Homo sapiens: one gene and its partner. The protein of the gene in region 1 interacts with the protein of each later gene in a pairwise test. Each region holds a gene or a part of one and is shown on either strand. Other genes may lie near its edges.

The links. Proteins that work in one complex are often made in the same cells at the same time.
Region 2: the proteins of NOXA1 (region 1) and DUSP4 interact in binary tests that used the Homo sapiens proteins (3 or more experiments, as listed by UniProt).

Annotation. Positions count from the first base shown.
Region 1 is NC_000009.12:137,426,361-137,430,104, reverse strand, and holds part of NOXA1 (NADPH oxidase activator 1), read right to left. Parts: exon of another isoform or gene 2,073-3,744; coding exon 1,964-2,072; intron 1,665-1,963; exon of another isoform or gene 1,489-1,664; intron 1,224-1,488; coding exon 1,089-1,223; intron 830-1,088; coding exon 722-829; intron 1-721.
Region 2 is NC_000008.11:29,349,148-29,352,891, reverse strand, and holds the start of DUSP4 (dual specificity protein phosphatase 4), read left to right. Parts: upstream 1-2,207; 5' UTR 2,208-2,613; coding exon 2,614-3,046; intron 3,047-3,744. UniProt on the Homo sapiens protein: Regulates mitogenic signal transduction by dephosphorylating both Thr and Tyr residues on MAP kinases ERK1 and ERK2.

The DNA of each region.
Region 1 (3,744 bases):
CCCGGGACCTCGCTATCTGTGGCAGGGACACAGGCACCCCCGCCCCCCGGGACCTCGCTAGCTGTGGCAGAGACACAGGCACCCCCCCCGGGACCTCGCTACCTGTGGCAGGGACACAGGCACCCCCCTGGGACCTCGCTGTCTGTGGCAGGGACACAGGCACCCCCCCGGGGACCTCGCTATCTGTGGCAGGCACACAGGCATCCCCCCAGGACCTCGCTATCTGTGGCAGGGACGCAGGGACCCCCCCCCCCCGGGACCTCGCTATCTGTGGCAGGGACGCAGGGACCCCCCCGGGACCTCGCTATCTGTGGCAGGGACGCAGGGACCCCCCCGGGACCTCGCTGTCTGTGGCAGGGACACAGGGAGACACAAAGGCATGAAAGGACGCAGAGAGACGCAGGGACTCTGGGAGGCTGCAAGGCTGTGGCTGTGGCCATGGCCCAGTCTGGGGGCGGGGTGGCACCTGCAGGGTCCTTGTTGAGAGAGCTGGAGCCCCCTCCTATGCAGCCGGCTCTAGTGGGCTCTGCCTTCAAGCTCACAGCCCCATTTGGGGCACCGCCCCCCTACCGTGGGCGCCAGTTTGAGGATGGCTGTGGGCCCACTCTCTACCCTCCTGGCCCTTACGGTGGCCTGGACTGCACCTCCCCCCATCCCTGGGAACACAGTTCGAGGGCTCAGCACCAGCCGCCATGCCCCAGGACGCCGTCCCCACCTTTACCTTGGCCTTGCCCAGGAAATCCACGGGCTCCAAGTGCTTCAGGTGCCACCGGTGGGGCCGGAAGACCTCGCCCCTGGGGACCTGCCGTGGCGGCAGTGAGCCCCGTCTCTGGAGGGGGTGGGTATCCAGCAGATGCAGACGGGGTGACCAACCAGGCCTGCAGCCGCAGAGCCCCTGTGCCTTGGAGCAGAAGGGGCCGCTTGGGCCCCCCACCCCCTTCCCGCAGGTCACAGGAAGCCCCCGCCTGGCACCCGAAACTGGGCACTAGGGCCATCTCCCTCCGGAAGCTTCTTCATCTCATGAAATTGGTCTTGAGGAGCTTTGGTAGGCACCAGCCCAAAACCATGACCGGGCTGGCACTCCTCACCTGCACTTGGTCCAGGGCTGAGTCCAGGCCATTCAGGGACCCCTCCGGCCACTTGGACATGGCCTCCCTTAGGCTGCTGGCCGCCTCTGTCCAGAGCCCCAGCTGGCACTGTGCCGACGCCACATTGTGTAGCACCTGGGAGTGGGGCCAAGGTGATGGCAGGGGCCTGATGCCCCACCCAGGCCCTCTCCCGGTTCCCCCACCCAGCTCCTCCCTCGGTCTGCCCACCCAGCCCCTCCCCCAGTCCCCCCACCTGGCCCCTCCCCCATCCCCCCACCCAGCCTCTCCCCCAGTCCCCCCACCTGGCTTCTCCCCCGTCTCCCCACCCAGCTCCTCTCCCAATCCCCCCACCCGGCCCCTCCCCTGCACCGTTCTGTGTCCTGGGCTGGCGGGCCCCCACCTGGCTTTAACCCTGACTCCAGACCCACACCAGTGGGCTTTCCCTTCCATCTTTTTGTCCTAAAAGACAATGCTATTCCCAGAAGGCTTCAGGGCGATGCATTTCCGGGGTCTGGTGGGGGGGCCTCTCAGCACCCCTCCTTCGGTGCCAACACGTTCCAGGCAGCCAGGAAAGGGCTGGGGGCACAGTGGAGGGTGGGCACAACCCCCTGCCTGCTCCCTGCCCACCCAGCAGCCTTTCGCCTCTGCCCTCCTTCTGGGTGGAGCCACCCCTGGTGGCCTGAAATGGCACAAAATGGTCCCTCCACCTCCACTGCCACCAGAACCTCCTGCGGGTCAAGGAGTGGCCAGGGTATTCCATGGCACCAAGAGCTTCGGCCAGAGGCGCTCCCCAGTCCACAGGGCCCTCCTGTGACAGTGCCACCGCCCGTGGACACCCCACAGCCAGCAGCACAGTGAGCCCTGCCCGGCCTCACCTCCCAGGCTTGCAGCTTGAACCGCAGGCCCAGCTGCGTGTAGTCGATGGCAGCGTGGCCCCTCAGCTGCTCCAGGGCCAGCCAGAAGTCAGACAGAGCCTCCTGGAACCTGTGGGCAGCCGGGGTCCCCTCAGCAGCACAGGGCGGAGATGGGGCTGTGGTTAGGCAGCTTTCACACCAGCCCCGCTCGAGCCGCCCCCAACACCTGGTTCCAAGGAGACCTGAGGGAGGGCAGTGCGGTGCCTAGGTCTGCACACTCAGGTCTGGTGGGCCAGGGGTCCATGCACATGTGTGCTGAGTGGGTGTGGGGGTCACTGTGTGCTGGGGCTCCACCATTTTCCCAGCTCAGACTCAGCTTCCTGGGCCCCTGCCCGCCCCCAAGCCTCTCTTCTGAACCGTGCAGAGAGCCCTGGTTATTTCCCTCCTGCTTCTCAGGCCCCCCACCCCATGGGGGCTCCCCCTCCAAACTCTGAGCCTCCTTCCAAGCCTTGCTGGGAGCTCCCCAGCGCCTGCCGGAGAGGCCTCTCCTCCAGGCGGGCTTCCCGCGCCGATGTGAAGGAGAGGCTGCCCCAGAGGGGTCTGGATCGTAATCCAGAAAGGGACAGTCCCACAGCCATAATCCCGAATGCTGGGACTCTTCAGTAAAGGAAGAGATGGCTTTTTCGTTCATCTGCCTTTCTGAAAGGTAAAATATCTCCAGATCCGGGCTCTCTGGGCGACTGCGTATGTGGTGGTCCCTGAAGCCTTTGATGGATCTTGTTAGAAGGTGGGTTGTTCATCTTGGTGTTTTGATGACCAGTTATAAAGCCAGGTGCACACAGTCACCAGCCAGAGTCTACGCACCTACGTCTTACCCCTTCTGACCTAGCTCCTCATGAGCACTGTTCATCTGCTCGTAGTTCTCACACCCGTGAGCCTGTCGCTAGCGTGCATGAATTTGTGCTTGAAAAAATATGTATGTTATTTTTGTCTATTTTATCGGCCAATGAAGGGTTCCGTCGTGTTTTTATGTTTCTCAAATAAATCCCTTTAAAATATGTAAATAGGCTGGGCGAGGTGGCTCATTCCTGTAATCCCAGCACTTTGGGAGGCCGAGGCGGGTGGATCACCTGAGGTCAGGAGTTCGAGACCAGCCTGGCCAACATGGTGATGCCCAGTCTCTACTAAAAATACAAAAATTAGCCAGGCGTGGTGGCACATGCCTGTAATCCCAGCTACCCGGGAGGCTAAGGCAGGAGAATCGCTTGAACCCAGGAGGCGGAGGTTGCAGTGAGCCGAGATCGCACAATTGCACTCCAGCCTGGATGACAGAGCAAGGCTCCTTCTCAAAACAATTTTTAAAAAGTAAATAAATATCTTTTACAGAATTTTATTTTTTCTAGAATTATATTTTTTGGGATTTTAGATTTGAGGGGTTTTGATATTTCAGGATTGCGAGGCTCTCGGGACTGTGATCCACTTCCCCACAGAGCCTGCCCTCCTGGGATGGGGCCTGTGAGTGTCTAGCAGAGAGGCCGAGGCATGGCCTGGTCTGCAGTCCCGATGGTCTCCTTTCCCTCATTCCTCCTTTAGGAAGGGACATGGTGCAGAGAGCCCAGGTAAGCAGTGAGGACCCCACGACCTGTGTCCAAGGGTGGCGCTCAGCAGAGGCGAGGGCCACAGTCTCAGGTTTCCCTGGAGCCAGGAACCATGGAGGAGGGGGTGGGCAAGAGGAGGGAGTGGATGGAGAGGGAGGAGGAGGAGGTGCAGGAGTGGACTCTGCAGGGAGACAAAGGGCCGTC
Region 2 (3,744 bases), on another chromosome or scaffold:
CGGGAGAGCTCCGGCCCTGGGTCCTGGCAGGCGGCGGATTTCTGAGCTGCTGGAGAGCAACCCGGGAAAGCAAAATCAGCCTTGGACTGTCGGGGCCCCTGGGGCTCCTTGCTCCTTATCGAAAGCGAGTTATTAGATAGACCCCCACAGTCCCATTCAGCAGAATGGGAAACTGGACTCAGACACCTTTTGCCCTCCCCACAGGGAGGCCACGCCGTGCGGCTTTGACCACTGATCTCCCACCCGGAGTGCCCGACGCCCAGGGTCCTGCCACCGGGCAGCCTCGGTCAGTCCACAGTTGTGGCTCCTTCCAGGGCCTGGACTAGGGTGAGCACAAGCCTTGAGCGCAACATTTAAGAAGGGCGCCGAAAAGTCAGTAATCAAAAGAAATATCTTGATGCAATGCCTCTTTAAAAGAAAAAAAAATGCAAAAAATCCATGATGAATAAAATACTAAATTTTAAAAAGAGAAAGGATCCGTGCAGTGCCATCGTAAGCCATTTTGGAGCCCGGAGCAAAAGGAAATATCACCTTGCCCAAGCGGTGCCCCTACAGCTCATCCGAGTAGGGCCCGGGGGTCGAGGCATTCGGGGCCCAGTGGGGGACGAGGCCAGTCGAAGGTCTCGGAAGTGGAGGCTCCGCCGAGCTCCGGTCGGGGAGTGCAGGGATGGCCCCCGGGACCGGAGGTGAGAGCTCGGGAAAGCCGCTCCGCCCGGAACAAAGGCATGGGGAGAGGGTGAGCTTGGGCGGGAGAGACCCGGCGGGTACCGGTGCCCTCGCTGCCTGGGTCGGGCTTCCACGCGCGCCCCGGAATGGAATACGCTACTCTGCAGCCTCCGAAACTGCGAGCGAGTCCTGTAACTCCCTTGCTCTGTGATTAATTCTCACTAACAAGACTTGGCAAGATGTCGGGCGAATGATTTTTGGCTTCTGCACGGTCCCCACCGCGTGCGTGCACAAACCCCCAGCCAAAAGCCGCCTCTGGGAAATTAAATGCAAAAGAGAAATGGGGATGGGGAGGGCTGCTACGTGACCAGGAAAAAGGGATGCCCAGAAACATGAATCGGACCCAGAGCTGCTGAAGTCCTTTCAAAAGGTCATTCTTTGCGGGTACATTTTCCAGGGTCCAGCTCCGCAACAAATGTGGACCCTGTCATTTCCTGAAAGGATAATTCACAACTATGCAAGATAGGGTGAAGACGTTTCCCAAACCCGAAAACCTTGTTTTTCCCCCGACCAGGGTTAAATAAACATCTTTTAGGAAGCGTGGACAGGAGCGCAGCCTGCTCTCCTCCCTCGGAACACCATTCCGGCAATTAATGCCTCCCTTTGGGTAGTAAAGCAACAAACCCCACACCTCACTCCGATCCTGGGCTTCGGGCGGGAGGACTTTCTCTTTCATCTTCCAAGCAGGGGGTTGCCCACGTTCTTGGGGAAGCTATAAAACTGATTTAATGGCTTTAGATGAAAATCGATCACGCTAATGCATACGCTAACGTCTCAGGAATCGCATATTCAGAAAGGACTGGCCGGGCCGAAAGCGCACGGGGAGTCTGGGGCTAGGAGGTGTCAGGCCCCGCTGGGTGGGCAGCAGCGCTCCGGTCCCCTCTCCACTTGGGTAACCGGGAAAAACCTACGGGGCTGTCACGCGGGGAAGCGCGAAGGTGCCAAGGGATGAAAGCTCAAACCCGAGCCCTGGCCTCCTCAGCCGGCTATTTCCTTTGGCGCCGCCCGCCTAGCGGCGGGGTGCAGCGGCGGCACAGGTGCCGGTGTCGGGCTGGAGGCGCGGCGCAGGCTGGGCCCGCGGGTAGACGGCGAAAGGCGCCGCGCGCTCCATTCACAAAGTCCGGGCGCTGCCCGCCGCTGGCGGCGGGTCGGAGGCCGCCTCCCTCTTCCTCTCGGCCTCGGTTTTATGAATGGGCCTGATGGCGAGCACCCGGCGCCCTGTTTACTCCGCTCTTTGTGACGTCGAGTTCCCGTGACCGGGAGCCAGCGGCCGCGCTCCATTCAAGCTCCGGGGAGGGGGTGGGAGGAGGGGCCCGGAGGGGGCGGGGAGTCAGCGCGGGGGGCGGGGGACAGCGCGGGGGGCGGGGGACGGCGCGGGGCCCGGAATGGAACGGGGCGGGGCCTGGCGGGGTAGTACCTAGCGCCCCCTCCCCCGGGAGCGCGGAGGAGCATTAATAAACCTCTAAGCCGAGGAGAAAACTCTGGCTGGGGCAGTGCGCTGAGCGCCGGAGGAGCGTAGGCAGGGCAGCGCTGGCGCCAGTGGCGACAGGAGCCGCGCGACCGGCAAAAATACACGGGAGGCCGTCGCCGAAAAGAGTCCGCGGTCCTCTCTCGTAAACACACTCTCCTCCACCGGCGCCTCCCCCTCCGCTCTGCGCGCCGCCCGGCTGGGCGCCCGAGGCCGCTCCGACTGCTATGTGACCGCGAGGCTGCGGGAGGAAGGGGACAGGGAAGAAGAGGCTCTCCCGCGGGAGCCCTTGAGGACCAAGTTTGCGGCCACTTCTGCAGGCGTCCCTTCTTAGCTCTCGCCCGCCCCTTTCTGCAGCCTAGGCGGCCCGGGTTCTCTTCTCTTCCTCGCGCGCCCAGCCGCCTCGGTTCCCGGCGACCATGGTGACGATGGAGGAGCTGCGGGAGATGGACTGCAGTGTGCTCAAAAGGCTGATGAACCGGGACGAGAATGGCGGCGGCGCGGGCGGCAGCGGCAGCCACGGCACCCTGGGGCTGCCGAGCGGCGGCAAGTGCCTGCTGCTGGACTGCAGACCGTTCCTGGCGCACAGCGCGGGCTACATCCTAGGTTCGGTCAACGTGCGCTGTAACACCATCGTGCGGCGGCGGGCTAAGGGCTCCGTGAGCCTGGAGCAGATCCTGCCCGCCGAGGAGGAGGTACGCGCCCGCTTGCGCTCCGGCCTCTACTCGGCGGTCATCGTCTACGACGAGCGCAGCCCGCGCGCCGAGAGCCTCCGCGAGGACAGCACCGTGTCGCTGGTGGTGCAGGCGCTGCGCCGCAACGCCGAGCGCACCGACATCTGCCTGCTCAAAGGTAAACGAGGGCTCCGGGCGCTAGCTGGAGTCGGGGAGATGGAGGGGGTCTTGGCGGCCTGCGCCTTATTGGCACGGGAAGGAGTCCCCGGCGTGATTCGTGGTTGCGGGGATCCCCGCGCGCCCCTTTGTGTGTGTTGGTGTGTAGGGGTTTGCAAGGTTTCTGTGCAAGTGCGAGGTTCAAGTCCTCAGGGAAAGTGCGGACGGGTTTCTCCGGTCACCTGCAATTCCGCACCGTCCTAGCGAGGCCCCGTTTATTGACATTAACGGTCCTAGCCTCGAGGATGAAGCGACTCCTCTGCGCGGTCCATCTTGAGTCCCGGGAACAGTTTCCAAGTACCACGGGGCGCGTGGGGACAAGATAGGCCTGTTGGTTTGGCGTGCTGGGGCCCTACACTGAGCCGGACCGGGAGAATCCCAGAGGTGGAGAAAAGGTGAAGAGGGGTGGGCGCCGAGGTACAATTGGCCTTGCCAGTTTCACTGAAAACAAGACCCTGGCAAATGCAGAAAGGGAGATTGGGTTGCACACACTGTGTAGAGCGATCTGTATCTGCGTTCCCGCTGCCCAACTCCAAGCTCAGCTTGGAAGGTGGCCAATCCCCGTCCCGGGCTAGATCCAGGCTCTGGGAGCGGGAGGCTGAAGGACTGGGTATCTGGGGGACGCCGGGCGGAACCGGTCCTCTAGCGCCTGCAAATCCG